2 linked regions of the Homo sapiens genome follow. The protein of the gene in region 1 interacts with the protein of each later gene in a pairwise test. Each region holds a gene or a part of one and is shown in the gene's direction. Other genes may lie near its edges.

Region 1 (16,731 bases):
ATTAGCCAGGCGAGGGTGCTCGGGAGGCTAAGACAGGAGAATCACTTGAACCAGGGAGGTGGAGGTTGCAGTGAGCCGAGATCGTGCCACAGCCCTCCAGCCTGGGTGACAGAGTGAGGCTCCATCTCAAAAATAAAAAATAAACATAAAAATTATTTAAGCTAATCGCTTGGTTGACAGAAACCATCAAACTCAGCAATTCTTTCCATTGAAAATGAAATGAGGCCAGGCGCGGTGGCTCACGCCTGTAATCCCAGCACTTTGGGAGGTTGAGGAGGGCAGATCACAAGGTCAGAAGATCGAGACCATCCTGGCTAACACGGTGAAACCCCATCTCCACTAAAAATACAAAAAATTAGCCGGGCGTGGTGGCACACGCCTGCAGTCCCAGCTGCTCGGGAGGCTGAGACAGGAGAATCACTTGAACCCGGGAGGTAGAGGTTGCAGTGAGCCGAGACTGCATCACTGCCCTCCAGCCTGGGCGACAGAGGAAGACTCCGTCTCAAAAAAAAAAAAGAAAAAAGAAAAAAGAAAGAAAATGAAATGAGGCAAAAAGTAGGCTTTGAAAATGTTATCGATGAGTTTGTTTCCATTAAAGCCAGAAGTGCACTTTTTTTTTTTTTTTTTTTTTTTTTTTTTTTGCCTCAGGCTCTGATATGGCGCCACCCAGCACTGCTGGTCACAGTTATACCGAGGAGCTTTCCTCTGGCTTCTGGAGCACTCTACACTCCCCCTTCCTCTCCCAGGGCCTCCCGTAGGCTCTTGCCTCTGTCAGGAAAGCACCCCTCACTCTGCCTGGCCAACTTCTCCAGCTGCGTGGACACTTAGCTTTCCTGGCCCCAGCTCAGTTTGGGTTTGGTGTGATGAGGCCAGACCCTCCCTCGCAGCTCCGTGAGGACAAGGGCTTTGTCTCTTGGTTCACCTCCCAGGCAGAGCACGGCAGCTGGCTTAGGGTAGGCAACATCTGCACCACATTCTGGGAACACGGAGCTGGCCATTGTTCCTGGGCAAGGCGGGCTTCCCGGTGCCCGGAAGGAGGGGCTCTTGAAGGACAAGCAGGGCTTCACCTGGCAAAGAAGAATGGAAGAGAGGCCCGGTGCGGTGGGTTATGCCTGTAATCCCAGCACTTTGGGAGGCGGAGGTGGGCGGATCACCTGGGTTCAGGAGTTTGAGACCAGCCTGGCCAACATGGTGAAACCCCATCTCTACTGAAAATATAAAAATTAGCCGGGCATGGTGGCGGGCGCCTATAATCTCAGCTACTCGGAAGGCTGAGGTAGGAGAACCTGGGAGGCGGAGGTTGCAGTGAGCTGAGATTGCACCACTGCACTCCAGCCTGGGCGACAAGAGCAAAACTCTGTCTCAAAAAAAAAAAAAAAAAAAATGGAAGAGAATCACAGCAGAGGAAGTAGCATGAACAAAAAATGCTTTCATTACATCTCATCCCGAGTCCAGGGAGAACCGGGACTGCCCACCTCACTGCCTCCTTGTTGTCAGCCCGTCTTGCTTTCCTCCATCTGTTTGTTCAATAAACATCTCTGGGTTGGTATCCTCCAAACATCACGCTTACTTGTTTCATGCCTTGCTCCTCAGTTTCTTTGTGCCAGAGATTTTTCCATTTGATTCTTCCCAGGAATTTTGTTCCTTTTGACAACAAACGCAAATGTGTCATTTGATTCCTCGAGCCTCTAAGCTTTCTTTCTTTCTTTTCTTTTTTTTTTTTTTTTTTGAGACAGACTCTTGCTCTGTTGCTCAGGCTAAAGTGAAGTTGGTATGATCTTGGCCTCCTGGGTTCACAGGATTCTCCTGCCTCAGACTCCTGAGTAGTTGGGATTACAGGTGCCCGCCACCACGCCCAGATAATTTTTGTAGTTTTAGTAGAGACGGGGTTTCTCCGTGTTGGCCAGGCTGGCCTTGAACGCCTGACCTCAAGTGATCCACACGCTTCAGCCTCCCAAAGTGAAGCCTCTGAGCTTTCACTCTCTGACTTTTTTTTTTTTTTTCTCTCTCTCTCTCTCTCTCATGGGTTTTGAGGCCTGCCAGTTTCCAGGGCCCTGAGGTTACTGCAAAGGCCACAGCTGTCCGTTGCTGTTCCCACCCATGGCTATTAGTGTCCATAGACTGTGTGTGCCAAAAGCATCTCCCAAGTAAAATGTTTGTTTAGCAAATAGGCATTTTTTGCAAACCCTTAGCCAAAGCATTGATCCGGCAACAGTTCACCAGGATAGTCGTGATGCCAAAGGGTCAGGAAAGTGTGTTTTCTTTCATCTGTCGCTGGGCAACTGTCGAGGGCCATAACTCTGAGCTGAGGAGACGGACACCTGTGGCCTCAAAAGAAATATCCATGTTATGTGTCTTGTCTCATGGGATCCTATTTGAGTGTTAGAAACAGGAAAGTTCTTCTTGTTCATGTTAGCAGTTGTTTGTTGAGCCCTCCCTCCAGCCTTCCTGGTGTGACACGAATCTCAGGACCCACCCTCAGCATAGCAGCACAACTGCGCTCTCCAAATCGTTTATTGAGATACAGTTCTCACTTTTTTTTTTTTTTAAACAGAGTCTTGCTCTGTCTCCCAGGCTGGAGTGCAGTGGTGTGATCTCTGCCTCCCGGGTTCAAGTGATTTTCCTGCCTCAGCCTCCCGAGTAGCTGGGATTACAGGCGCCCACAACCACGCCCGGCTAATTTTTGTATTTTTAGTAGAGGCGGGGTTTCACCATGTTGCCCAGGCTGGTCTCAAACTCCTGACCTCAAGTGATCCACCCGCTTCTGTCTCCCAAAGTGCTGGAATTACAGGTGTGAGCCACCACGCCCAGCCAGTTTTCCCATTTAAAGTAGACAAATCAATGACTTTTGGTATATTCACAGATTTATGCAACCATCATCATAGTCGATTTTAGAGCATCTTCATGATGCTCAAAAGAAACCCCACGTTTCTTAGCCATCACATCCCAACCCCCTCACTCCCTCCCCTACCCCAATCCTAGCCCTACACAACTGCTCAGCTTTCTGTCTCTATAGATTTCCCTATTCTGGGCGTTTCATGTCGGTGGAATCATGTGATATGTGGTCTTTTGTGGCTCCTTCCTTCCCTTAGCATGTTCTCCAGGCTCATCCGTGTTGTAGCAAGGGTCAGTGATTCGTTCTGTTTTACGGCACAGCCAAATGATATTCCACTGTGTGGATAATCTGCATTTCATTCACCCACTCATCTGTTGATGAACATTTGTGTTGCTTTTGCTCTTCTGGTTCTTTTGAAGAATGCTGCTGTGAACACTGCTCTATGAGTTGGTGTGTGGACATGTTTTCATTTCTCTTGGATATACGCTCAGGAGGGAGATTTCTGGGCCACATAGTAGGGACCACTTCTCACTGTCCCTGAAACCTCGGCTTTACCTTGCACAGCTCTGGTTCCACACCTGGTGACGGAGAGGCAGAGACTGGCTGCCACACCTGCTGGAGCGCTCACCGTGTGGTCCCTCAGCAGCACGCCTCATCTGCCACCATCGTCTTATGATCAGGGAAACTGAAGCCTAGAGAGATAAAGTGACTTCACTCCATCTGGGGCTGGCGCATGCTCTGAGCTCAGTCATGGCAGGGCTGGATTCTGGCCTTGTGGGGGCCTGAAGTGCTATCCCCGAGGGTTGAAGGTTCCGGGAACTGCTCCTAAGAAGGGCCTGTTACAAGCGAGCTCGGTTCCCTGGTGGCTTGCATGGCTCATCCCCACCCCTCTCTCCCCACAGGGTGCCTCTGCCAACTGGTGGAATCATCGCCACTTCCAGCACCACGCCAAGCCTAACATCTTCCACAAGGATCCCGATGTGAACATGCTGCACGTGTTTGTTCTGGGCGAATGGCAGCCCATCGAGGTACGACTAAGAGGATGGTGTTGACCTAGGAAGTGTTTGTCCTGGGCGAATGGCAGACCATCGAGGTACAACTAAGGAGATGGTGTTGACCTAGGAAGTGTTTGGCCTGGGCGAATGGCAGCCATCGAGGTACGACTAAGGGGTTGGTGTTGACCTAGGAAGTGTTTGGCCTGAGCAGGGAGCAGGGAAGGAAGCCTAGAGAGCTGACATTCAGCCAGGCAGGTCCACATCTCCTGCTACACAGATACCTCTCCTAGGTACCCTGAATTGTTCTGGCTGGAATGTATGTGGAATGGCCTCACCTGTAAATACAGACACAGCTCCTCATTAGAATGGTAGATGTCTCCCTCCTACCCTTAGGCCAGGAAGGGCATTTTCTGGCTTGTTTTTTCCCAGGGTAGAGGGAAATCTTGTTCCAGTTCAGCAGGAAGGCAAGATTTCAGGGGCTCAAGCTTGGTCGCCAACCGACTAGCTCATGTTGAGAAAACCTTATTTGGAGAATCATCATCCTGTACACTGGGAGGAGCCTCAACGTGGCTTGGTCCAATCTGCTTCACCAGTGGATAAGAAATTGAAGGTCAGCGAGAGGATGGAACACGTTCAGGGTCACATAATTTATTTAGTTTTTTTTCTGAGACGGAGTCTTGCTCTGTTGCCCAGAGCTGGAGTGCAGTGGCACAATCTTGGCTCACTGCAACCTCCGCCTCCTGGGTTCAAGCAATTCTCCTGCCTCCGCCTCCCACGTAGCTGGGATTACAGGCATGTGCCACCATGCCAACTAATTTTTGTATTTTTAGTAGAGACAGGGTTTCACCATGGCCAGGCTGGTCTCAAACTCCTGACCTCATGATCTGCCTGCCTCGGCTTCCCAAAGTGCTGGTATTACAGGCATGAGCCAACGTGCCCAGCCGAGAGAGTCACGTAATTTAGTGGCCAGTCTAGGGTGAGGCCCCAGACCTTTGGACTGCTAGGCCATTGCCTTCCATTTACTATACCATTTTATTTTCATATTAGTTCATTTTATTACTACAAATATAGAACACACTTGGTATAAACTTCTAAACAGTACAGAAATATCCAGAATTAAAACACGAGTCTCAGCCTGGGCAATATAGCAAGACCCTGTCTCTAAAAAAATACATATTTTTTTAGTTAGCCAGGCATGGTAGCACGTGCCTAGTCTCAGTTATTGGGGAGGCTGAGGTGGGTGGATCCCTTGAGCTGAGCCCAGGAGGTTGAGGCTACAGTGAGCTATGATCACACCACTGCACTCCAGCCTGGGTAACAGAGCAAAGCTATGTCTCAAAAAAGAAAAAAAAAGTGAGTCTCTCAAACCTCCCCTTTGCCCCAAATTTTATGCCCTTGAGGGTAACCACTGTTAACAAGATGCTATACAGTCTTCTAGATATTTTTATATGTGTATAAACATGCATATATCTGTTTCTTTACAAACAAAAATTTTAGGCCAGCTGTGGTGGCTCACACCTGTAATCCCAGCGCTTTGGGAGGCTGAAGTGGGAGAAGTGCTTGAGCCCAGGAGTTCAAGACCAGCCTGGGCTACATAGTGAGACCCCATCTCTGCGAAAAATACAAAAGATTAGCCAGGTGTAGTGGTGTGCGTCTGTGGTCCCAGGTGCAGGGGAGGCTGAGGTGGGGGAATCACTTGAGCCTGGGAGCCTCAAGGCTGCAATGAGCTATGATTGCACCACTGCACTCCAGCGGGGACAGAAGAGGGAGACTCTGTCTCAAAAATAAAAAAATAAAAAACAAAAAAATTCTACCTTGTATCCTGCAACTTGCCACCTCTGCGAATGTGGATGCCCTTCCCCCCCAGTTCATGTAGACAGGTCTCGTCTCCCTCTAGCCATATGGTATTCTGTTGTACTTCTGAACCATAACAGGACCTACATTATTTTATATGGTAGACAAATTGAGTGTCAGTAGTTCATAATTTCTTTCTTTTCTTTTCTTTTCTTTTTTTTTTGAGACAGAGTCTTACTCTCTTGCCCAGTCTAGAGTGCAGTGGCACGATCTTGGCTCACTGCAACCTCCACCTCCCAGGTTCAAGTGATTCTCCTGCCTCAGCCTCCCGAGTAGATGGGATTACAGGTGCACACCACCACGCCTGGCTAATTTTCTCATTTTTAGTAGAGACGGGGTTTCACCATGTTGGCCAGGCTGGTCTTGAACTCCTGACTTCGTGATCCGCCCACCTCGCCCTCCCAAAGTGCTGGGATTACGGGTGTAAGCCACCGCGCCTGGCCCATAATTTCTTTTGAATAAAAGCCCCACCAATGCGTTCCACAAAAAAATGTTCTTATTTAATACATTCTTTTTTTTTATGTAGAGCCTCTATGTCGGGACCTAATTTAGAAGAAAAAAATAAATATATGCGCTGCTTTTTGGAAATACATTAATGATTAAAATGAAAGTTTAGAAGATCCTTGTTGCTTTTATGCAGATCTTAGGAGCCACAAAGCCATGCATAGAGTAGGGTTCAATCAGCATCTGCCAAGTGAGGCCAATTTTCCCTCACTAAGGAGTGGCACCGTGAGTGAAGTAGTATTCCCGACAGCCTTGGCGCCTAAGGCTTGGAACAAGGCGAGGAGACAGCCTGGCTCCCCAGTTCTGGTTTGTACACCCTCTTCTTATTTCATTTCCACCCGTGAGACTATCTGAGCAGGAACGTGGATTTTTCTGTAACATGGCCAATTCGCAGGAAATCAGCCACAGTTCTGTACTTTGGAAGCCTCTCTAAGCTGCCAGGGATTCCATTTTCTGCCAAAGTACAGGCTATTGTTATTCTTCTAGGAAACAGTTTGCCAGCTTTAATTAGAGGTGTCTAGAAAACAGAACTGATGAACTTGAGGCCCTCTGATAAGTGGGGACAAAGGCTTCATTTTCTCGGCGAGGCTTTGTAATGTAGAGCCGTTGGCTGTCCTGACAGATGTTCTCTGTGTCTCCAACAAAGAAAGTCTAGTCCCACCAGCTGCACTGGCAAGAAGGCGTCTTTCTTGTGCGTGGTGGCCAGAGAAGCCTCTCCTTTCCCGACATCTTCTCACCCCCGACACTTCTGGAACGCTGGCTTTGGGGCAGGAGATAGGGGTGGGAGGCTGTGAGGATCTGGTTGTTCAGTTACCAGCGGCGTTTGGAAGTCCCCAGCCAGTGCCGCGGTGTTCTGTGGAAATCCCCGCTCTCACACTCATGGGGAAAGGATTGGTGCTTCCTGGGTTCCTGGTGTTTTGACCTGTGCTCTGGCTCTCGCAGGACCCGGCCGCCCTGGAAGGAACCCTGGTCTCTTGACTGAAGTGACAGTGGGTCTGATGGGACTTGTCACATGCCAGTCCCACACACCACAGCAGGGCCAGGTGGGGCGGCCAGGTCCCAGGGCCTCAAGCCACCATCCCAGTCTCCAGAGCAAGGATGCCGGCCAGGGCTTCTATCTCTGGGGACAGATAAGCAAAGCAGCCCTGCCAAGCGGCTCCCAGCACGTGGAACTGTGAATAGCGCGGGCTCCGCAGTAAAGCCCTTTTCCTCGTTTTCTGCATTTTGGTCTTATTGATGCTGTCCAGGAGGATTCTTTTTGTCATATGTAGCAAAGTATATTCACTTTACCCAGAGATTCATTTCTTGTGTGCTTAGAAAGTTCTTCATACATATTATTTTCAGTTCTTTAAGGTTTTGTGTTTCAATCTTTAACTTCTGCCAAATGGGATATGGGTAGGATGATGTTCGGCCTTCACTTTTCTCCAGAGTCGGCCAGTTTTCCCGGCACCCCCATGAGGTGGCATTGCTTCTTCATATGAGGCAGTGAGTGCTCCTGAGCCCGGGCTTGGCCTGGGCTGGGCTGTCTGTCCTCTCCCAGGCCACCGTCTGGATGACTTGGGGGCCACACTCACACTCATTCATCCTTGGCACTTAACTCATTGGAAGCTCGTAGTGGGGTGCCTTTCCCCTTCTCTTTCTCTCTCTTTTTGTTTTTGTTTTTGTTTTTGAGACAAGGTCATGCTCTGTCACCTTGGCTAGAGCGTAGTGGCGCAATCTCGGTTCACTGCAGCCTCAACCTCCTGGGCTCAAGCCATCGTTCTGCCTCAGCCTCCCGAGTAGCTGGGACTACAGGCACCCGCCACCATGCCCGGCTAATTCTTGTATTTTTAGTAGAGATGGGGTTTCACCATGTTGGCCAGGCTGGTCTCGAACTCCTGACCTCAAGTGATCCGCCTACCTCAGCTTCCCAAAGTGCTGGGATTACAGGCATGAGCCACTGTGCCCGGCCAAGGTCTGTACTTCTTTATATGTCTCATGGATGTTTCTTTTAAAACGCAATCCTTATATGTTTTATATTTTGTCATTATGATTGGAGGTTCTCCAGTACTCGGGAAAGCAGTGGATATTGGGGTAGTTATCTTAATTTTCTTTTTTTTCTAAATTTTTGTTTGCATGGCCTTCCAATGAATGGGATAGTTATCTTTTGTCCCGCTAGTGTCCACTTACGTCTCTTCGTAATTCTAGTTGTGTTTCGGTTGATTCTTTTGAGTTTCCTGGGTAGATGATCATATCCTAGAAAATAATGAAAACGTAGTCTCTCGGCCCAGCGTGGTGGCTCACATCTGTAATCCCAGCACTTTGGGAGGCCGAGGCTGGCGGATCACGAGGTCAGGAGATCGAGACCATCTTGGCTAACACAATGAAACCACCGTCTCTACTAAAAATACAAAAAATTAGCTGGGCATGGTGGCACACGCCTGTAGTCTCGGCTACTCTGGAGGCTGAGGCAAGAGAATCGCTTGAACCTGGGAGGCGGAGGTTGCAGTGAGCTGAGATAGCACCACTGCACTCCAGCCTGGGCGACAGAGTGAGACTCCGTCTCAAAACAACAACAACAACAACAACAACAAAACAAAACAAAACAAACAGAAAAAAAGTGTAGTCACTCTTTCTTTCTTCTCTTTCTTTCTTTCTCTCTCTCTTTCTTTCTCTCCCTCCCTCCCTTCCCTCCCTCCCTCCCTTCCTTCCTTCCTTCCTTCCTTCCTTCCTTCCTTCCTTCCTTTCCTTCTTTCTTTCTAATCTGGATGTTGAAGTAGTCTCTTTCTTTCTAATAGCTCCACTCTGTTTTCTGCTTTGGGTTTTATTGCATTGACGGGAAATTTCAGAGCTGAGTTTAATAGCGGTGATATTGGCAGCAGCCTTGTTTTGTTCTTCTTTTGCCATATCCCCGTTTTCTGAGGGGGCTGGTGAGACCATTATCCCGGTAGCAGTGTAAAGGGGCCTCAGAAGCCGTGCGGTGCCTGAGATCCTCCTCCTCCTCCCATCCGGGAAACCACCTCTGCTGCTCTGACTGTCTGAAGCTAACCTCCTGGGCTTCCTGCTTGAGGCAGACCTTCATGAACAGGCTTAAGCCACCCATCCCGCCTTGGGACACACATGCCGCCCTCTCGGGGACCTTGGACTGGGACCTTGCCATTCTGCTCCTGCTGGGGAGGTCGTGCCGCCTGTTTCTCTCTGTGTGTGAGTTTGCAGGTTCCCAGAGGCAGAGACTGGGCTTTGCGACAGCTCCCCTCCCCCAACCCTCGATGGACAAGGAGGGCCCTTGTCATTCCTCAGACATTTTGTTCCAAAGCTGAAAGGTCCCCTCCACATGGCCCGGCATCCCCCAGGCCCTCATCCAAGCCTGGCCTTGAGGTGCATGGAGAGGCCGAGGACAGGAGAGTCAGCCCCGCCGCCAGGGCTGGCTGCACTCCCTCCCTTGCCCCTGGCCTGCGTCTCTGCCTGTCAACCGCAGCCTGGGAAGGCACTGTTGCTGATCAGGGGGAGGTCCATGTGTGCCACCCACACCCTTGGCCGCAGCCCAGCCAGGTGAAAGTCATGTGTCTTCCTTGCCTCTTGGGCTTTCTCTGTGTGTGTGACGGGGACTCCTCTGGAGGAGGAGATGTGTGGGGTCCTCCACTCCCCACACTTGGGGCTCTGAGCCCCCAGTTGGGAAGAAGCCTGACTCTTGTTGAGTGAGTCTGTGGACCGGGCACTGTGATGGGCAGTGTGCGTGCACAACGTCACTTAATCCTTGCTTAACCCGTGAGGCGGGAGCTGTCATCGACCCATTTCATGGATGGAACAGCTAAGGCCAAGAGACATGAAGTGACTTGTTCAAGGTAACAGCAAGGAAAAGGCAACACCACTGTCCGAACCCAAACCATCTGGCTGCAAACCACAGCTTCGGAGTCCTGGGGGCCCTTGTGAAATATGTTTGTTGGGTAGCCCCAGCTTTCTGATCAATTAAACAGCCAGGCACTCACCCCCCTAGCTTGCTACATTCTAAAATACCTCTCCCTCCCTTCCCTGGTCCCATGACTTAAACGGCAAAGCTCTGGCAAAGAACTGAGCGTGGGAAAGATGAGAGCAGAGAGTTAGCCACAGGGCAGGGCTTCGTATCCCAAACCCACAGTTGTACTTTCTGGTTTGGGAGGGGAGTATTGGCCATCCCCCAGCAGAGCCGCTGCAGCTGAGGCCATCGAGATGGGCACAGATGTGTAGTGGTATGTCACCATACGCATGTACATACACGTGCGTGACTGTGATGAGCATTTTGCTCACCGTCCCACAGAGGCCCACTCTGAGGCCTGCTGCTGCCTGGCAAGCAGGACCCCCTGGCTCCCGAGGGTCATTCTGGGGCATTGAAGGGACGCACACTAAAGCCAGCAGTGCTTACCAGCAGAGGCAGCCCCTGTAACCTGTGTTGTCCACCCACAGGCCACCATCACCCATGAGAACAGGGTGCCTACTGTGCACATGCAGCTCCAAACAGACTCCCCAGGTGCCTCCCAGGCCCCCACAACAGCGTGGCCAGCCCTCAGTCCCTCCATAGGATGCCCTGGCCCCTGCTGACCTGCCTGGGTTGCCCTCTGTGCTCACTTCCGAGTACAGCCGGCCCAGCCCGAGAGGGATGGGATGCTCTGTGGGACAGAGATGCGGTGGGGAGGAGCTCTTGAGCAGAGCTGGAGACACTGCATGCCAAGGCTGGGGCTATGAGCCTGCTCCCTGGCCTCTGGGAGAAGCTTAGAGCAGGACTCAGGGGCCTGTTCTGTGGGCCACTGCAGGCCCCGAGACTGGCCACCTCGAGAGCAACGTCTGCAGTGCTGGCTCCTCCAGCAACTCCGTCCACTGGAGACTCATGAAAGGCTCCTGTGAGGCCTCCCTGGCTCGGACCTCTCCATGGCCGGCCTCAGCCCTGGCCTTAATAATAGTCTTCCTGCAAGTGGCCGTCCTTTCTGGGAATGAGTGAGATCCTTGCCAAGGCTCAGGAGGCCACACAGAACAAAGGGACTGTTTCTGGGGGTTCTTCAGCTGGTTGTGCCGTGACCATGGCCATTGGCGCCAAGATGCAAGCCTTGGGGACAGGGTGGACCTGGTTCCCACCCACAGCCTCTTCCCTCAGGAATCCATGCTCTCCCTGTGATTTGGACAATCATTTTACTCACCTGGATGAGAGGGGCACTGGCCTAGGCATCATCCAAGGTCCCTTCCCTCTGTAACTCACTTTGACCTCCTGACTGCAATAAGTATGACTGGACACTATAGGAGGAGGCATCTCTGGCCTTCGGATCCAGGGGTATAGGGAGGGTGACGGGCAGTGTCCTGGGGTCAGCACTTGGCATTATGCCCATGTTCTCATTGGCTCCTCTTACCAACCACTGATTCAAATGCCAGACAAGGCTCAGCAAGGCTAAGCGACTCACATAGTCTCAGCACTGGTGAGAGGCAGAGTCGGCTCAAGCGCATCTGCTGGCTGCAAGCCCAGCCTCCCCACACTGCAAGGGAGAGGAGCAGGTGTCACTCAGTGAGCGGCATCTTTTGGTCTCAGTCCTGGAAGTGCAGGGTGGGCTGGTCCCTAGGGGCTGGACCATGGAATTAAGGGCTCCAGGGATCCCCTGGGGCCGTGGTTCCTATGCCTGGCATTGGACAATGACGATGCCCAGGACCCAGCCCAGCCCTCCTCCATTAGAGCCTCTGGGCATCAGGCTGCCCAAGGTGCAGGCTCTGATGGGGAAGAAACCGGTGCCGTCATGGGGACCTCAGGTAGCCAGATGTGGCCTGAGGAGTCTGTGCTGTGGCCTCCTCTGTCCTCAAGGTTAGGCTCCAGCTGGGGAGGAGTGATTCACTCTTGTAAATTACAGGGAGGCTCCAGGGAGGCAGATGCTCCCAGCCTGATGACTGGCAGCAATTCTGGGGCCCTTACCTAGGTTCTCCCTGCCACTGCGGGCTCCGGGAGCTCTCCATGGTGACCTAGGAACTCCCCTGGGTGCTTATGCTCCGCCGAGAGTTGCTCTGTTGCACATTCATTCAACAAACATTTGTTTAGTGCCTGTCACATGGGCTCAGAGTCAGCTTTTTGGGTTCTGATCCCAGTCAGGGCCACTTCCTGTGGCCTTGGGCCATGGCTTAACGCTGAGCCTCAGCCTCAGAAGTGCCGGCCTTGTAGAGGATCGATGCCATCGGGCCAGTGCTCGGCTAGGGCTGAGGAAGCGTTGGCCGCTGCTGGCTGTAGCATGGGGAGCCCAGAGGGCTGGAGGGGCCCCAGGCTTGGTGGGCCCAGGGTGCAGATTGACAGGAAAGGGACAGTGGTGTGCCCTGAGCAGATAGAAGGGATGGTGGCTGCAGGATGGGTTGGGGAACATGGGAGGCTGGGAGCTGAGGCTACTGGGTGCTCATGATCTCTCCTCTCTCCTCAGTACGGCAAGAAGAAGCTGAAATACCTGCCCTACAATCACCAGCACGAATACTTCTTCCTGAGTGAGTGCTCGGCGCCCCGAAATCACTCTGGGACCCTCCCCTCCCCCCAGAGTGGCGTGTCTCTCCCTCCTACCTGACATCTTTTTCAGATCCAGAAAGTGACACTAAACTTGTTAGAAGCGGGGGCCACAGCAGCCTTGCTGTGCAGACCCCTCAGCCTGTGTTACAGGCCTGATGGGGACACAGAGGCTCAGAGAGTCCCAGGGGTGACACACGTCCTCAAGGGCTCCCAGCCTTCTCTGCAGGCCCCGGGGTCCCTGGCTGCTTCTGCCCACGTCTGCAGGGCTGGCCCCTGCACTCAGTGCTGGGCCTGGGTTCCCCTGACCTTCCGGCACAGGCAGGGTGGAATGGATGCCTCTAAGCGCCTGTCTCTCTCCTGCAGTTGGGCCGCCGCTGCTCATCCCCATGTATTTCCAGTACCAGATCATCATGACCATGATCGTCCATAAGAACTGGGTGGTGAGTTGGGGACACAGCTGGCTTGGCATGGGGAGGAGGGTGACTGGGACAGGGGGACCCGGGGGTCCTACGCTGCCTCCTCGTGTGCCCCAGTGGAGCCTGTGGGGCCCCAGGCATCTCCTCCCTGGGGTAGCTGCCTCTCAGGAAAGGACTCCCTCTGGGGCCACCAGGACCTAGTCCTAAAGATCTCTACTCTCCCTCAGACATAGGGAGTCCACTGGGGCAGCCCCTGCTTTTGCAGAGCCCCCGAGAAAGTTCTCAAAGGCAGCAGGATGAGAGGCAAGTGTGGCCATCTCCCTTCCCCGCTCCCTGTGGGCCCTGAGTCCCATGAACTGGGTTGCCCCACACCCTGGTTTGAAGTTGGAGCAGCTGGGCGTTGGCTGAGATGACAGGTGTGGTCGTTTGCGAAGACCGTATGACAAAGCACCACGAACTGAGTGGCATAAGCAGCAGCGATGTGTTTTCTCCCGGTTCTGGAGACCGGAAGTCCAAAACTGAGGTGTTAGCAGGGTGGATTCCTTAGGGCTCTGGAAGGCTCTGTTCTGGGCCTCTCATCGGCTGGTTGATGGCTTTCGTCCTCCCTCTCGGTACATCATCTCTCTGCATATTTGTATCTGTATCTGTGTCCAAATATCCCTCTTTAAAAAAATTATTTTGTTTATTTGTTTATTTATTGAGACAGAGTCACATAGGCTGGAGTGCAGTGGTGTGATCTCGACTCAACTGCAACCTCTACCTCCTGGGTGCAAGCAATTCTTGTGACTCAGCCTCCCAAGTACCTGGGATTACAGGCACCGGCCACCATGCCCAGCTAATTTTTGTATTTTTAGTAGAGATGGGGTTTTTCCATGTTGGCGAGGCTGGTCTCGAACTCCTGGCCTCAAGTGATCTGCCCGCCTCAGCCTCACAAAGTGCTGAGATTACAGGCATGAGCCACCACGCCTGGCCTATTTTTTAATTTTCTTTTTTTCTTCACCAAAAGTGGATTCTTGAAAATTTTTCCTTTTTTTTAAAATAGGGACATTGGTCATATTGCATTAGGGCCCATTGTAATTACGTCATCTTTTTTTTTTGAGATGGTGTTTCGCTCTGTCGCCCAGGCTGGAGTGCAGTGGTGCGATCTCGGCTCACTGCAACCTCCGCCTCCTGGGTTCAAGCGATTCTCCTGCCTCAACCTCCTGAGTAGCTGGGAGTACAGGCGCCGGCCACCATGCCTGGCTAATTTTTGTATTTTTAGTAGTGATGGGGTTTCACCATGTTGGCCAGGCTGGTCTCGAACTCTTGACTCGTGATCCACCCGCCTTGGCCTCCCAAAGTGCTGGGATTACAGGCGTGAGCCACTGCACCCGGCAGATAAATTGTTTATCTGAAAATTATCAAAGACTAAATTGTCACTTTCTGAAATGCTTGCTTAAAATCCAGTCTTTCTCAGCAGTCTATTTGTCCCTCATGCTCCAACCAATAGCCATGGGGAAGTTTTTCCTCTCTTAACCAAATGTGGACTTGTTTATTGATTACTGTTTTTTGTTTGTTTGTTTGTTTTTGAGGTGGAGTTTCGCTCTTGTTGCCCAGGCTGGAGTACAATGGCGTGATCTCGGCTCACCGAAACCTCTGCCTCCTGGGTTCGAGTAATTCTCCTGCCTCAGCCTCCGAAGTAGCTGGGATTACAGGCATGCGCCACCATGCCCAGCTAATTTTGTATTTTTAGCAGAGACAGGGTTTCACCATGTTGGTCAGGCTGGTCTCAAACTCCCAACCTGAGGTGATCTGCCCACCTCAGCCTCCCAAAGTGCTGGGATTACAGGCGTGAGCCACCGCGCCCGGCCTGTTGATTACTGTTTTATCGCTTGCTAACTGAAGTTGTCCTTTTCACCCTGACTGTGAATTTAAGAGCAGCCAAGTCAAATTTTATCTCCAAGTCTTGGACCCATATATCCAATCTAACTCCATTTGGAGGTGTCCCAGCCATTGCAAATCCAACATATTCAATGTAAGTCCTCTCCTCTTCTCCCACAACCTAATCCTGATGGTCTCCATGTTAATGAATGGCTCCATCATCCACCCAGTGGCTCAAGTTAGAGACTAGCACCATTATGTTTTTTCCCTCCTTATACATGTTACACCCTCTCCTTGCCTCTAGCATCCAATCCCGTTCTAACTCATAAGTGGCCTATTGCCGGGCGCAGTCACTCATGCTTGTTATCCCAGCACTTTGAGAGGCCGAGGCGGGCAGATCATGAGGTCAGGAGTTCGAGACCAGCCTGGCCAGCATGGTGAAACCCCGTCTCTACTAAAAATACAAAAAATTAGCCTGGCATGGTGGTGTGCACCTGTAGTCCCAGCTACTCAGGAGGCTGAGGCAGGAGAATTGCTTGAACCCGGGAGGCGGAGCTTGCAGTGAGCAACTTCTTTTTTTTGTTTGTTTTTGACTGTGCTTGTTCCCTAAGGAACAAAGTATTAAACAGGAAAAGAAATCACCCTATGTTCCTAAAAGGGGATGGCAGAGTGGGGACAATGTGATGAGCCCATGGGGCTTTCAGAGCCAGGAGCGCACCTATGACCTGGGGCACTGGTTCTCAGGGGAGCTGTTCTGCCCTTTGGCAGTATCCGGAGACACTTTTAATTGTCACAACTTCAGGAGAGGAGGGTGCTACTGGCATCTGGTGGGCGTCTAGCCAGGATGGTGCTTAGCACCCTGCCATGCCCTGGAGAACCGCCCATGACAACAAGCAGCCTGTCCCAGGTGCCAATAGTGTGGAGGTTGGGGGACCCTGGCTTAGAGGAAAGAGGTGACAAACCCTAAGATCTTTGAAGGAGGCTTCCCGGGGAGATTTACATGCTCTGGCAAGGTTCCCTGTTCCCGGGGCCACGTCCTGGATCCTGAGATGCTCCCACGCTTCACCCTCCTGGAATTTTGCTGTATCTGACACCACTGGCCACTCCCTCTTGCAGTTCTTCCTGTTGGCTTCCAGGTCCCCACCTCTGCTGGCTTCTTCCCAACCCCCTCGCTCCGCCTCTTTGGCTGCTTCTGATCTCTTGGGCTCTCTGCCCCTGAAACCAGCGATCTCTGTGTATGTGTTGCTCTCTACACTCAAAAGAAGTCCAGGCCAGGCATGGTGGCTCACGCCTGTGATCTCAGCACTTTGGGAGGCTGAGGTGGGAGGGATCACCTGAAGCCAGGAGTTTTGAGACCAGCCTGAGCAACATGGGCGAAACCCTGTCTCTACAAAAAGCTGGGCGTGGTGATGCGCGCCTGTAATCTACCTACTTTGGAGGCTGAGGTAGGAGGATGGCTTGAGCCCAGGAGTTTGAGGCTGCAGTGAGCTGTGATCACACCACTGCACTCAAGCCTGGGCAACAGAGTGAGACCCTGTCTCTTAAAAATAAAAGTTGGGCCAGGGCAATGGTTCACACCTGTAATCCTAGTACTTTGGGAGGCCAAGGCTGGAGGATCACTTGAGCACAGGCATTCGAGACCAGCCTGGGCAAGTAAGTGAGACCCCCCCATCTCTATAAAAACTTAAAAAAAATTATCCAGGTAAGGCCAGACACAGTGGCTCATGCCTGTAATACCAGCACTTTGGGAGCCTGAGGCAGGCGGATCACAAGGTCAGGAGATCG
Region 2 (15,487 bases), on another chromosome or scaffold:
CAAAACCATCTCCAGTAAACCTTTGTGAGCTAGCTTCTCTCTTTTTTTTTCTATGAAATTGACTGCGGTGATATCTGTAGAGCATCTACTATGTGTTAGACACTGCTTACATTTATTCCTTAAAACTAAACATTAAGCCTTTTTTTTTTTTTTTTTTTGGAGACCGAGTCTCGCTCTGTCGCCCAGGCTGGAGTGCAGTGGAATGATCTCGGCTCACTGCAAGCTCCGCCTTCCGGGTTCACGCCATTCTCCTGCTTCAGCCTCCCGAGTAGCTGGGACTACAGGCGCCCGCCACTGCGCCCAGCTAATTTTTTGTATTTTTAGTAGAGACGGGGTTTCACCGTGGTCTCGATCTCCTGACCTCGTGATCCGCCCGCCTCTGCCTCCCAAAGTGCTGGGATTACAGGCGTGAGCCACCGCGCCCGGCCTAACATTAAGCCTTAATGAAAATTATAGATAGGGCTGGGCGCGGCACTTTGGGAGGCTGCGGCGGGTGGATCACCTGAGGTCAGGAGTTCGATAGCAGGCTAACCAACATGGTGAAACTCCGTGTCTACTAAAAAAATGCAAAAAAATTAGCCGGGCGGGGTGGCGGGCGCCTGTAATCCCAGCTACCCGGGAGGCTGAGGCAGGAGAATCCTTTGAACCCGGGGAGGTTGCAGTGAGCCGAGATTGTGCCATTATACTCTAGTCTGGGCGACAAGAGCGAAACTCCGTCTCAAGAAAAAAGAAAAGAAAAGAAAATGACAGATAGTAGAAAGATATCTCTGTCCTTAGTCCGGTAGAGTGCAAGTCTTTTTTTTTTTTTTTTTTTGAGACGGAGTCTTGCTCTGTTGCCCATGCTGGAGTGAAATGCCGAGATCTCAGCTCACTGAAACCTCTACCTCCCGGGTTCAGGCGATTATCCTGCCTCAGCCTCCCGAGTAGCTGGGATTACGGGCACACGCCACCACACCCGGCTCATTTTTTGTATTTTTAGTAGAGATGGGGTTTTGCCATGTTGGCCAGGCTGGTCTTGAACTCCTGACCTCGTGATTCGCCCACCTCGGCCTCCCAAGGTGCTGGGATTACAGGCGTGAGCCACCGCACCTGGCCCAGTAGAGTGCAAGTCTTAAAGCCTGAGTTGTCTTCTTAGGTTATGGTTGTAGTGCTTCGTGGATTCTTACTAAATTCCAGTTTTACTTAATCCGATAAAAGAGACTTTACAAGTCTGTAGCCTCACACTGCTGCCGTTGTCTTTAAGATCTTTCCCTTAATCACTTGGTCTGGCATACCAGCTGACAGAGGAATATTCCCAAGGCGTCCTGCTGTCTTGTTGATTTACCCAGTCCTCAGTGTCTTGTATTAACTTATCTTTGCCTACCAAGTGAAGGACACACATTGAGCTCCACACTCAAGGCCCTCTGCTCTATGGTACCAACCTCTTTTGCCAGGTCACCTTCTTTGGCTCCTAATTTAAACAGTTGGAATTAATTGCTGTTATTCAAATGGGCATTTGGTCGTACTGCTTCTTTCTCTCGCCTTCAAACTGGAATACCCTATCTTTTATATCCTCATAAAAATTCTATCCTTCCTTCAAGGCCCATCTCATGTCACATCCTGATTCATCTGTTAGTGCTCTGATTTGAATTCCTGTAGTATTTTGTATCTTAATTATAGCACTCAGTATCTCATCTTGTATGCTTATCGTATTCTAGATAGCTATTTCAGATGAGGGCGGCAAACACTGTGTGTAGGGGCAATCAAATATTTGTCAAATTGTCAGGACCTTTCTTGTGTTGCCTTAACTACACTATTGTTAGCTATAATTTGGGGTTGATGAATTTTAAAACAAACCCTGAATGAAATTTGTGTCCTGCCAAACCTTTAGGATATACCTGCTTATGGCTTTTGGATGTACAATTTAAGCCAAAACAGGATGGGTTACATTGGTGAAGTTTACTTTTTGCTTCTGAAATAACATCTAGAATGTTAGTTTGTAGAATAAACATTTTCTAAGAATTTTTTTACATTTTTTACCTGTAAATGCAACTCTTTTTACAATTCTTCATTTCCTTTGGAAGGAGTCCAAAACTACTTACCTGGAAGACCTTCCACCACCCCCTGAGTATGAATTGGCCCCGTCCAAGTTAGAAGAGGAAGTGGATGATGTCTTTCTCATTCGAGCTCAAGGACTGCCCTGGTCATGCACTATGGAAGATGTGCTTAACTTTTTTTCAGGTATATTTTATGTATGTTTTATTTATTTATTTTTTTTCCTTATATTGTTTCTCACAAGCAGGTATGTATGTTTTAAGTATGTAATTTTGTCTGAGTAAAAGGTAGTGCTACAAATCCATGTCAGACTACGCTGTCACCTTCCTTTTTGATGGTTGGGAACTGTCTCATTCTGGTTGGTTGCATATACCAAATGATACCATGTGTGCTGTTTGCGGTATGTAACGAATTGAAAGACTTTGGGCCAGGGGCAGTGGCTCAGGCCTGTAATCAGCAGTTTGGGAGGCCAAGGTGGAAGGATGGCTTGAGGCCAGTAGTTCCATACCACACTGGGCAACACTGTGAGACTGTCTCAATTTACATATGTATAAAGACTTTGAATGCAACAAAAGTATTTTAACGTTAAGACTGCATAGTATGGGCCAGGCGCAGTGGCTCACGCCTGTAATCCCAGCACTTTGGGAGGCCGAGGCGGGCGGATCACAAGCTCAGGAGATCGAGACCATCCTGGCTAACATAGTGAAACCCCGTCTCTACTAAAAATACAAAAATTACCCAGGCTTGTAGTCCCAGCTACTTGGGAGGCTGAGGCAGGAGAATGGTGTGAATCCGGGAGGTGGAGCTTGCAGTGAGCCGAGATGGTGCCACTGCATTCCAGCCTGGGCGACAGAGTGAGACTCTGTCTCAAAAAAAAAAAAAAATCCATCATACTATGTAGGTTTTTTTTTTTTTGAGACGGAGTCTCGCTCTGTCGCCAGGCTGGAGTGCAGTGGCATGATCTCAGCTCACTGCAAGCTCCGCCTCCCGGGTTCACACCATTCTCCTGCCTCAGCCTCCCTAGTAGCGACTGCCACCACACCCAGTTAATTTTTTGTATTTTTAGTAGAGCTGGGGTTTCACCGTGTTAGCCAGGATGATCTCAATCTCCTGACCTTGTGATCTGCCTGCCTCGGCTTCCCACAGTGCTGGGATTACAGGCGTGAGCCACCGTGCCCGGCTGGTATGATGGAATACTACGTAGCCATAACAAAGAGTGAGATTATGTGCTTTGCAGCAATGTGGGTGGTGCTGGAGACCATTATCCTAAGCAAACTAACATGGAACATTAAACTTAATACTGTATGTTTTCACTTACAAGTGGGAGCTAAACAATGAGAACACATGGACACAAAGAGGGGAACAAGAAGACACCAGGGCCAACTTGAGGGTTGGGGAGAAGATTAAAAAATACCTATCGGGTCCAAGTGCGGTGGCTCACGCCTGTAATCCCAGCACTTTGGGAGGCCGAGGCGGGCGGATCACGAGGTCAGGAGATCGAGACCATCCTGGCTAACATGTTGAAACCCCATCTCTCCTAAAAATACAAAAAAAATTAGCCGGGCGTGGTGGCACGCTCCCGTAGTCCCAGCTACCTGGGAGGCTGAGGCAGGAGAATCGCTTGAATCTGGGAGGCGGAGGTTGCAGTGAGCTGAGTTCACACCACTGTACTCCAGCCGTGGTGACAGAGAGAGACTCTGTCTCAAAAAGAAAAATAAAACCTATTGGGTACTGTGCTTGCTACCTGGGTAACTAAATTATCTGTATACCGAACTCCCATAACACATGGTTTACCTATGTAGCAGTCCTATACATGTACTAAATAAAAGTTGAAAAACAAAATTACATGGTTTGAAATTATTTTTCTCTGTGGTATTAATATATACATATCAAAAAGTCAAGCCTGTCAGTGGAAATATGGAATTAAGGGTGACTCTTTATGTAATACAGACATTTACAATAGAAGGTCACTTAGTATCAAGGAATAAAGTTCCCTTAATAACATGTTTGGAGGGTTTACATATCTGTGGGATTTTTTTTTTTAGTTTCTGTATCTGACTATGATTTATTTTTATTAATTTTTTTGAGATGGAGTCTTGCTCTGTCACCCAGGCTGGAGTGCAGTAGCGCAATCTCGGCTCATTGCAACCTCCACCTCCCGGGTTCAAGGGATTCTCCTGCCTCAGCCTCCTGAGTTGGTGGGACAGCAGGCACCTATCACCATGCCCGGCTAATTTTTGTATTTTTAGTAGAGACAGGGTTTTGCCGTGTTGGCCAGGTTGGTCTCAAACTCCTGACCTCAGGTGATCCACCACCTTGGCCTCCCAAAGGGCTGGGATTACAGGCATGAACCACCATGCCTGGCTATTTCATTAATTTTTTTAGCTGCTCCTTGTGGAGCAGGAGTAAATCCTAGGCAGTATGCCCAGAGTGAGCCTGGTCAAACTTTTTTTTAAAGCCACTTGGCCACTTACATCTTGGACTACTCCCATTATAAAAAGTATGCAGTATGAAAAGGGGAAAAAGGCTGGGTGTGGTGGCTGATGCCTGTAATCCCAGCACTTTGGGAGACTAAGGTGGGAGGATTACTTAAGCCCAAGAGTTCAAGACCAGCCTGTGCAACAAAATGAGACCGCCTCTCTACAAAAACAAAAAGTTAAACTATGGTAATAAAATTACTCATACAGGAAATATTTTAGAGACCTATGGAGATGATTTTAAAGGAAGACACTTATGTATAAATTTAACTATATTGTATTTCCTTAAGTGATTGTAGAAACATTGCAATAGAAATAATGAATTTTGTGTTGGGCCTATCCTGATTTGCTATTTAATGATCAGGAAGGAGATCATAAGCTTCTGTGCTAAGGTTTGCTTATCTTTTCTACTTGGAAGGTTTTAGAGACTAAATCCTTATTGGTGTTTGGATGACTTCAGTGATGGGGATTTGTGTAAGGAATATGACACTTGTTTCCTGCTTTGTTGTTGGAAAACTGCATTCTTGTGACTTACATAATTGAGCTAAAAGTTTGATTTCTGTTTTCAATTGATTTTGCTCATACACTTTTAGACTGCAGAATCCGCAACGGTGAGAATGGAATACATTTTCTCCTAAACAGAGATGGGAAACGAAGGGGTGATGCCTTAATTGAAATGGAGTCAGAGCAGGATGTGCAGAAAGCCTTAGAGAAGCACCGCATGTACATGGGCCAGCGGTATGTGGAAGGTATGTGAAGTCAGATTATGGCTTTTTGGGATCATTGCATTAGGTTTTATACTTTTCAAGGTAGTTTTTATTTGATCCTTAATAATGAAGTATTTAGATTGTATGAATGCATTCTTTTATAGGATGTGAAAATAAAACATAAAGAGATAAAGTTTCTTTTTTTTGTGGGGGGGATGGAATCTCACTCTGTCACCCAGGCTGGAGTGCAGTGGTGCGATTTCAGCTCACTGCAACCTCTGCCTCCTGGGTTCAAGCAATTCTCCTGTCTCAGCCTCCCAAGTAGCTGGGACTACAGGCACATGCCATGATACCCAGCTAATTTTTGTATTTTTATTAGAGATGGGGTTTTACCATATTGGTCAGGCTGGTCTCAAACTCCTGACCTCAGGTAATCCACCCGCCTTGGCCTCCCAAAGTTCTGGGATTATAGGCGTGAGCCAGTGTGCCTGGCCAATGAAGTATCTTACAAGCTGTGAGAAATAAAGAAGTTATGCCCGCATGGTAAATATGCAATAAATGTCATTTGTTATTTTCTCTAGAGAAGCGCATAAAGATTAAAATAGTTATTGAATTCTCAGATAACCCAGCAAGTTGTAATGATTTTTTTTAATGGGTTTGTTCCTTTGTTATGTAAATTTTTCATCCCTGTTGGGTTTTTTCTTCGTAGTATATGAGATAAACAATGAAGATGTGGATGCCTTAATGAAGAGCTTGCAGGTCAAATCTTCGCCTGTGGTAAATGATGGTGTGGTTCGTTTGAGAGGACTTCCTTATAGTTGCAATGAGAAAGACATTGTAGACTTCTTTGCAGGTACTTTGCAGTTGTATTATGCTTGGGAGCTCATATCTTTTTTCCCTTGGTATCTCCTTCTATATCTTAGATGAGCCTGTTTCTGGGCAAAGGCATGCAGTTATATTAGGTTCTTTAGGGGAGAGCTCTTCACTTAAATTTCTAATATTTATAGATTTTATATGTGTTTTTGTTCTATCAGGCAGATTTTAGGAGGGAAGTCAGATTTCAGAATAATTTCATGAGGGTTTTACTATTGAAGGAAATAACTTCTCATAATAGTTGCTGTATTTGTGTAAGACAATAACAATTTATATAATTTAAAAGTATTTTCTAATTCCTAGAACCATTAGCAGTGAAGTCTGTGATTTCTATTGTTTCCTAGTATATAATTAACAGCAAAAAAAAAAAAAAAAACTGGTGGGGAGAATTGTATGTTTTGGGTGGGCTTCTTGGACCTTACCTATTCTGGAAATACAAGTATGTAGGTGTTGACTGACTTTTGACTGCATAATAATTTTCTTCCTGTCAAGCATGTATTCAGTTTTGGGACTGGCAAAACAGAATAAAAATTTTATTAGTATGTGAATGATGGTGTTAATTCTAAGGATAAAAAAGCCTGCTAGTAGCATTAAAATCTCTTGGTGTCCTAGGACTGAATATAGTTGACATTACTTTTGTGATGGACTATAGAGGGAGGCGAAAAACAGGGGAAGCCTATGTGCAATTTGAAGAACCAGAAATGGCCAACCAAGCCCTGTTGAAACACAGGGAAGAAATTGGTAATCGGTGAGTAAAGCAGATACTAATGATGCAGAAGTGTTACACATTAAGTCATTTTGATGAATGTGCTGTAATATGACTGAAAAGTTATCCAAACATAGAAAAGTAGAGAGAGTAGTGTAGTGAGCCATCAAATGCCCATAATTTAGATTAACAATTTTTTTTCGACTGCTCCTTTTTTTTTTTTTTGAGACAGAGTTTCACTCTTTTTGCCTAGGCTAGAGTGCAATGGCACGATCTTGGCTCACTGCAACCTCTGCCTCCCTGGTTTAAGCGATTCTCCTGCCTCAGCCTCCCAAGTAGCTGGGATTACAGGCGCCTGCCACCATGCCCGGCTTTTTTTGTATTTTTAGTAGAGACGGGGTTTCACCATGTTGGCCAGGGTGGTCTCGATCTCTCGACCTTGTGATCCGCCCGCCTCGGCCTCCCAAAGTGCTGGGATTACAGGCGTGAGCCACCGCATCCGGCTTGACTGCTCCTTGTGGGGCAGGGACTAACCCATAGACAGAGTACCTAGAGCAGCTAGATTAACACATTTATATATAAAATGTAACATCTGTTATATTTGCTTCATCTGGGTTTTTTTTAGTATGCATCTTTTAAAAAAATTTTTTTACATAATTTCAATGTTATATCTAACACTGTTAGCAATAGTATATTATCTAATAACAGTTCATAATAGCATTTTCCCAATTATACCAAAAATAGCCTTTTTTTTTTTGGCAACGGAGTTTCACTCTGCCGCCTAGGCTGGAGTGCGGTGGTGTGATCTTGGCTCACTGCATCCTCTCTCTGCCTCCCAGTTTCATGTGATCCTCCTGCCTCAGCCTCCTGAGTAGCTGGAACTAGAGGCATGCGCCACCATGCCCAGCTAAGTTTTGTATTTTTAGTAGAGACAAGGTTTTACCATGTTGGCCAGGCTGGTCTAGAACTCCCGGACTCAAGTCATTCACCCACCTCGGCCTCCAAAAGTGCTGGGATTACAGGTGTGAGCCAGCACACCGGACAAAAATACAGAATCCAGATAAGGTCTACACACTGCATTTGATTGTTATGTCCATAATTCTCTGTGTGTGTGTGTGTTTTTTTTTTTTTTTTAAGACACAGGGTCTTATTCTGTCACCCAGGCTGGAGTGCAGTGGCATGATGATAGCTCACTACAGCCTTGAATTCCTGGGCTCAAGCAATCGTCTCGCCTCATCCTCCCAACTAGCTAGAACAATAGGCATGTGCCGCCACACCTGGCTGTGTGTATGTGTGTGTGCGTGCGTGCGTGTGTGTTTGTAGGTGGGGTCTTGCTGTGTTGCCCTGGCTGGCCTCAAACTCATGGGCTCAAGTGATCGCCCGCTTTGGCTTCCCAAAACGCTAGGATTACAGGTGTGAGCCACTGCACCTGACCACTGATTCTCTTGAACTAGAGCAAATCCCCCTTACTTATTCTTCCCCCCTTTTTAAAAGCAATTGACTTTTGAAGAAATTAGATCAGTTGTCTTGTACAGTATCTCATGTTGACATCACCTCAGGATGCACATGATGATAAGTGGGTTCATTTGTGTTTTAACTTTAACTTTGGAGGTACAGTTTAAAATGTCAAATGTTAAATCACTGTTTCGTTAATTTTTTTTTTTACTGTTTTCTGGCCTTTTAAATCAGCTCCTTTGAAGTAAACAAAACAGCCATTCCAAAGCCAGTGTTTCAGGATCTACTGATAGAAGTGGTTCAAAGGTTTTTTGGTTTTTTGAGACAGGATCTTGCTCTGTCACCCAGGCTGAAGTGCAGTGCCACAAACACTGCTCATTTCAGCCTTGACCTTCTGGGCTCAAGCAGTCCTGCCATCTCAGCTTTCCTTGTAGCTGGTACCACAGGCATGCATCACCATGCCTGGCTAATTTTAGACAGAGTCTTATTCTGTTACCCTCGCTGGAGTGCAGTTGTGTGATACAGCTCACTGCAGTTGTGGCCTCCTGGGCTCAAGCAATCCTCCCACTTCAGCCTCCCAAGTAGCTGGGACTACAGATACATGCCACCACACCCAGCTAATTTTTGTATTTTTGTAGAGACGGGGTTTTGCATGTTGCCCAAGCTGGTCTCACACTCCTGAGCTCAAGTGATCCACCTGCCTCAGCCTCCCAAAGTACTGGGATTATAGGTGTGAGCCACTGTACCTGGTCTCCTGGCTAATTAAAAAAAAAAACAAAAAAAAACTTTTGTAGAGATGGTGTCTCACTTTGTTGTCCAGGCTCAAAGGTTTTTTTTTTAAAGAAGTAGTGCTCATCTAATCTTTATAGATTTGTAAACACAAGCTAGTTTTATAACTCTTAGTTTAGAAGGCCATGTTAAGAAAAAGGAAACTGTGCTGGGCGCGGTGGCCCATGCCTATAATCCCAGCACTTTGGGAGGCCGAAGTGGGAGGATCACTTGAGCCCAGGAGTTCAAGAGCAACTTGGGCAACATGGCAAGAACCCATGTCTACAAAAATAAAAAATAAAAAAATTAGCAGTGTGTGGGCTGGGCATGGTGGCTCATGCCTATAATCCCAGCACTTTGGGAGGCTGAGGCAGGTGAATCACCTGAGGTCTGGAGTTTGAGACCAGCCTGGCCAACATAGTGAAACCCTGTCTCTACTAAAAATACAAAAAATCAGCTGGGCGTGGTGGCGGGCGCCTGTAATTCCAGCTACTCAGGAGGCTGAGGCAGGAGAACTGCTTGAACCCAGGAGGCAGAGGTTGCAGTGAGCCAAGATCGTGCCATTGCACTCCAGCCTGGGCAACAAAAGCAAAACTCTGCTTCAAAAAAAAAAAAAAAAAATTAGCAGTGTGTGGTGGCAGGTGGCAGTAGTCCCCAGCTACTCAGGAGGCTGAGGCAGGAGGATCACTTGAGCCTAGGAGGTTGAGGCTGCAGTGAGCCATGTTCACACCACTGCACACCATCTTGGGTGACAGCAAGAAACCCAAGTTTCAAAAAAAAAAATTGTTCCAGAAGCTTGGGTTTAATAGATAGTCCCCTCCTGTGATAGCAAGTCATAATTGATACTTAGTTCTTGAATTCTCAGCCTTTTAGTGAAGTTCTGGGGAAGTTAGCTCTTCTTTTACTGTGACTTTTAATATCTTATACAGATATGATTAATTTGCACAGAATTGAATTTCAGAGCTTCAAGAGATTGTTAACCAGCAATTTAAAAAACCCTTATGAGATTAATTTTTTCTGTATACACAATTAACTTAAGCATAGTTGTTCTCATGAAGCAAAACAGAGTAGAAAATATTATTAAAATGTATGTGAAGAAAAAGTGTTACCTTGATGCAAAAACTTAAATCAGTGACCTACTCTGTTGTATATTTTCATGGGCTACTATCTGTATGCATTATTAGTTTTCCCTACCTGTTATCTTTTGACACCTGTGTTTCATAAGCTGTTGGAAATATAATGTATACATGTTTATTTTAAATGAGTTCAGTATAAAGTTACTTTGCACCATTTGTGCCTGTTTACTTTTGCTTTGACATAGATACATCGAGATATTTCCAAGCAGAAGGAATGAAGTTCGAACACATGTCGGTTCTTATAAGGGAAAGAAAATCGCATCTTTTCCTACTGCTAAGTATATAACTGAGCCAGAAATGGTCTTTGAAGAACATGAAGTAAATGAGGATATTCAACCCATGACAGCTTTTGAAAGTGAGAAGGAAATAGGTAAGGTCCTGCCTCTTCTTGAGACTCATTGGGTCTATCTTGAATGTTTTGGGTTTTGTGATTTTTTTTTTTTTGAGATGAAGTCTCGCTCTGTTGCCAGGCTGGAGTGCAGTGGTGCGATCTCGGCTGACTGCAGCCTCTACCTCCTGGGTTCAAGTGATTCTCCTGCCTCAGCCTCTTTGAGTAGCTGGGACTACAGGCGCATGCCGCCACGCGCAGCCAATTTTTATATTTTTAGTAGAGATAGGGTTTCGCCACGTTGGCCAGGCTGGTCTGGAACTCTTGACCTCAAGTGAGCCGCAGCCTCCTAAAGTGCTGGGATTACAGGTGTGAGCCAACACACCCGGCCTAAAGATTTAATAGGACTTTACATACTTTGAGTATATGCAGAAAGGCTTAATTATTTTGCTAGGTTTTTAATTTAATCATTTTTATTAACTATATCAAAAGCTGGGTAGTAAAAATGTGATAAAAGGAAGTAAGATGTCAACATTTAAATTAAGATGGGGGAAGATTTGGATAATGAGCAGGAATATTGACTGAAGTAAGGATTTTTTTTTTTTTGAGACAGAGTTTCACTCTGTTGCCCAGGCTGGAGTGCAGTGGCGCACTCTCGGCTCACTGCAGGTTCCGCCTCCCAGGTTCACGCCATCATCCTGCCTCAGCCTCCCGAGTAGCTGGGACTACAGGCGCCTGCCACCGTGCCCGGCTAATTTTTATATTTTTAGTAGAGACGGGGTTTCCCCGTGTTGGCCAGGCTGGCGTTGAACTACTGACCTCAGGTGATCTGCCGGCCTCTGCTTCCCAAAGTGCTGGGATTACAGGCATGAGCCACTGTGCCCGCCTGAAGTAAGGATTTTTGTTTGCTTCTGGATTTAATTATTTCTTTGATTCCTAACCCAGGGCAACATTTGGAATCTTTTAAGTTTCATAAATACTTTTTAAACTGGTACCCTGGGATTATCTTGTCACTATATATATGTGTATATATATTTTTGTTTTTTGAGACAAAGTCTTGTTCTGTGGCCCATTCTGGAGTGCAGTGGCACAATCATGGCTCACTGCAACCTTGAACTCCTGGGCTCAGGCAGTTCTTCCACCCCAGCCTCCTGAGTAGCTGGAACTATAGGCATGCATCACCATGCCCAGCTAACTTATTTTTATTTTTATTTTTTGTAGAGACAGTGTCTGGCTGTGTTGCCCAGGCTGGTCTCGAACTCCTGGGCTCAAGTGATTCTCCTGCTTCAGCCTTCCAAAGTGTTGGGATTACAAGTGTGAGCTACCACGCCCAGCCTTTGTTCTTTTTTTTTTTTTTCAGTGCCTATAATCTAGAAAGTCTCTTTTAGGGTTTAATTCATAATCATTTTACCTGCTCTCTGATGTTACAAAAAGGGCTAAGTTCTTAAACTGGTAATGGTCTGAGGCATTCAGTGCTTATGGGTGTTCAGGTGATATTTGTTGAGTGGCAGAAATTTCAGATCATTTTGGCTTTTAATGCTCTTAAGAGGAATTGAGGATTTGGACATAAAAGTCATACCTAATTAGAATCTGTTAATAACCCTTGAAGCTGTTATGTTTTAACAGTGCTTTCTGTTCCACCTCTCAGAATTGCCTAAGGAGGTGCCAGAAAAGCTTCCAGAGGCTGCTGATTTTGGAACTACGTCTTCTCTGCATTTTGTCCACATGAGAGGATTACCTTTCCAAGCCAATGCCCAAGACATTATAAACGTGTGTGGCAGTAAGATATCCAATCTCAATAGATTTGAACAAAAGTTCTAAAATTGAACTTGTATTAATTTGGGGAAGGTAGAGAAGAAAATATAGTGTTTCTGCGTTGGATAGTAAGATGGCATCTTCCTGGTTGCAAAGCTTGCTTCTTTTTCTGTAGCTGAAAAGTGTGGCTTGGTATTACTTTTTTTTGTGACAGAGTCTCGCTCTGTCGCCCAGGCTGGAGTGCAGTGGAGTGAACTTGGCTCACTGCAACCTCTGCCTCCCGGGTTCAAGCATTTCTTCCGCCTTGGTCTACCGAGTAGCTGGGATTACAGGCAGGCGCCACCATGCCCGGCTAATTTTAGTATTTTCAGTAGAGATGGGGTTTCACCATGTTGGCCAGGCTGGTTTTGATCTCCTGACCTCAAGCGATCCACTGTCCTCGGCCTCCCAAAGTGTTGAGATTACAGGTGTGAGCCACCATGCTCGCTGAGAGCAGATATTTGAAATGTCACTTTGAGTTCTGAGAAAAAGTAAAAAGCCAGAAGACATACTAGATATATAAATATATTACTGCTTAAAAAGATTTCCTAAAAAGAAATGTATCAAGTGTATGAATCAAAGTCTGAAAGAAAGATGAAGAGCCACCAGACTTCTAGGTAGGTTTACATCCATCATGTTCCTCTTGACTGCCTTTGTTTGTCGTTTAGTTTTTTGCTCCACTCAAGCCTGTTAGAATCACCATGGAATACAGCTCCAGTGGGAAGGCCACTGGAGAAGCTGATGTGCACTTTGAGACCCATGAGGATGCTGTTGCAGCGATGCTCAAGGATCGGTCCCACGTTCGTAAGTCCTGCCTTTGGCTTTTGTTGTCATTTTTGATGCTTGTCTTTGCTTACAAATATCTTTTTCTGTTTTGGGATTGTAGAATTTTTCCTTGAGAAATTTGTATTCTTTTAGTACTAGTAAATTAAACGTAACAGATAAAACACTATATTATAATTTAAAAAATTTTGTCTGCTAATTATCCTGCAAATCTCTTTCTTTCTTTTTTTTTTGTCACCCACGCTGGAGTGCAGCGGTGCCATCTCGGCTCACCGCAGTCTCAGCCTCCTGTGTTCAAGCAATTCTCCTGCCTCAGCCACCTGAGTAGCTGGGATTACAGGTGCCTGGCACCGTGCCTGACTAATTTTTCTATTTTTAGTAGACACAGGTTTCGCCATGTTGGCCAGGCTGGTCTCGAACTCCTGGGTTCAAATGGTCCACCTGCCTCGACCTCCCAAAGTGCCGGGATTACAGGCATGAGCCACCGCATCCAGCCTGTTTGTCCATTTTACATTTTGTTTGTTTGTGGTTGTTTGAGACGGAGTCTTGTCTGTCGCCCAGTCTGTAGTGCAGTGGTATGATCTCAGCTCACTGCAACCTCCGCCTCCTGGGTTCAAGTGATTGTCCTGCCACAGCCTCCCGAGTAGCTGGGACTATAGGCACCCACCACCACACTGGCTAATTTTTGTATTTTTAGTAGAGATGGGGTTTCGCTACATTGGCCAGGCTGGCTTGAACTCCTTACCTCAGGTGATCCTCCCACTTCGGCTTCCCAAAGTACTGGGATTACAATAGGCGTGAGCCACCGTGTCTGGCCTAAATTTTGTTTTTAATTAGGGAAAGGAAAGGGCAAAGGGTTTGAGTTGCTGTCTGAACTGTGAGAAAAATGGCTGTAATATTTTTCTACCTTTTCAACTTTTTAAAACTAATCTTTCTCATTATCCTCAGATCATAGGTATATTGAACTGTTCCTGAATTCATGTCCAAAAGGAAAATAAGACTCTAGGGGCTCCAGATAATAAGGTAAATTTAAGAGGTAATACTGTGGGCTGGGTGCAGTGGCTCACACCTGTAATCCCAGTACTTTGGGAGGCCAAGGTGGGCGGACCACCTGAGGTCAGGAGTTCAAGCCAGCCTGGCCAACATGGTGAAACCCTGTCTCTACTAAAAATACAAAAATTAACCGAGCATGATGGTGGGTGCCTGTAATTCCAGCTACTCAGGAGGCTGAAGCGGGAGAATCACTTGAACCCGGGAGGCAGCGGTTGCAGTGAGCTGAGATTGTGCCACTGCACTCCAGCCTGGGCAACAGAGCGAGACTCAAAAAAAAAAAAAAAAAAGAGAGAGATACAACTGTGGAAATTATTTGCTATTGATAAACTAATAATCATTCACTCACTAATTTGTAATATGGTAGAAACCATTCTCTTTTTATTTTTCAAATTTTTTTAGGGACTAGGTCTTGCTCTGTTGCCCAGGCTAGCAGTGGTGCGATCATAGCTCACTGCAGCTTCAACCTTCTGGGCTCAGGTGATTCTCTCACTTCAGCCTCCCAAGTAGCTGGGACTACAGGTGTGTACTACCATGCCTACCTAATTTTTTAATTTTTTGTAGAGATGGGGTCTCACTATGTTGCCCAGGCTGGCCTTGAACTTCTGGCCTTAAGTGATCCTGCTGCCTTTGCCTCCCAAAGTGTTGGAATTACAAGAGTGAGCCACCCCGCCTGGCACCATTCCTTTTTAATAAAGATCAAACTAATGATAATTGAAGTGTCAATATAAGGAATGAAAATTCTCGCTCTGGCTTCTCAGATGTGGGGGGCAAAAAAAAAAAAAGAAAATTCTGCTGGGAAATAGAATTAATTATGATATTTTTTCATTTTTTTTAAATTTTATTTTATTTATTTATTTATTTTTTGTGAGATGGAGTTTCACTCTTGTTGCCCAGGCTGGAGTGCAATGGCTCGATCTCCACTCACTGCAACTTCCACCTCCCGGGTTCAAGAGATTCTCCTGCCTCAGCCTCCCAAGTAGCTGGGATTACAGGCATGCACCACCACGCCCAGCTAATTTTTGTATTTTTAGTAGAGACGGGGTTTCTCCATGTTGGTCATGGCTGGTCTTGAACTCCTGACCTCAGGTGATCCGCCTGCCTCGGCCTCCCAAAGTGCTGGGATTACAGGCGTGAGCCACTGTGTCCGGCCTACTTTTTATTTTTTTTGAGACAGAGTCTTGCTTTGTTGAGCAGACTAGATTGCAGTGATGCAGTCTGGGCTCACTGCAAACTCCGCCTCCTGGGTTCAAGTGATTCTCCTGCCTCAGTCTCCCGAGTAGCTGGGACTGCAGGTGCCCGCCACAATGCCTGGCTAATTTTTTTGTATTTTTAGTAGAGATGAGGTTTCACCATGTTGGCCAGGCTCATCTTGA

Evidence for each region.
Region 2: the proteins of FADS2 (region 1) and GRSF1 interact in a two-hybrid assay, tested with the Homo sapiens proteins (one study listed by BioGRID).

The regions. Positions count from the first base shown.
Region 1 is NC_000011.10:61,844,421-61,861,151, forward strand, and holds part of FADS2 (acyl-CoA 6-desaturase), read left to right. Parts: intron 1-3,738; coding exon 3,739-3,864; intron 3,865-3,870; exon of another isoform or gene 3,871-4,441; intron 4,442-5,328; exon of another isoform or gene 5,329-5,639; intron 5,640-12,590; coding exon 12,591-12,651; intron 12,652-13,033; coding exon 13,034-13,110; intron 13,111-16,731. UniProt on the Homo sapiens protein: Involved in the biosynthesis of highly unsaturated fatty acids (HUFA) from the essential polyunsaturated fatty acids (PUFA) linoleic acid (LA) (18:2n-6) and alpha-linolenic acid (ALA) (18:3n-3) precursors, acting as a fatty acyl-coenzyme A (CoA) desaturase that introduces a cis double bond at carbon 6 of the fatty acyl chain.
Region 2 is NC_000004.12:70,822,891-70,838,377, reverse strand, and holds part of GRSF1 (G-rich sequence factor 1), read left to right. Parts: intron 1-2,063; coding exon 2,064-2,220; intron 2,221-5,104; coding exon 5,105-5,260; intron 5,261-5,927; coding exon 5,928-6,071; intron 6,072-6,703; coding exon 6,704-6,839; intron 6,840-10,341; coding exon 10,342-10,526; intron 10,527-12,132; coding exon 12,133-12,254; intron 12,255-12,946; coding exon 12,947-13,082; intron 13,083-14,009; coding exon 14,010-14,059; 3' UTR 14,060-14,084; intron 14,085-15,487. UniProt on the Homo sapiens protein: Regulator of post-transcriptional mitochondrial gene expression, required for assembly of the mitochondrial ribosome and for recruitment of mRNA and lncRNA. Binds RNAs containing the 14 base G-rich element.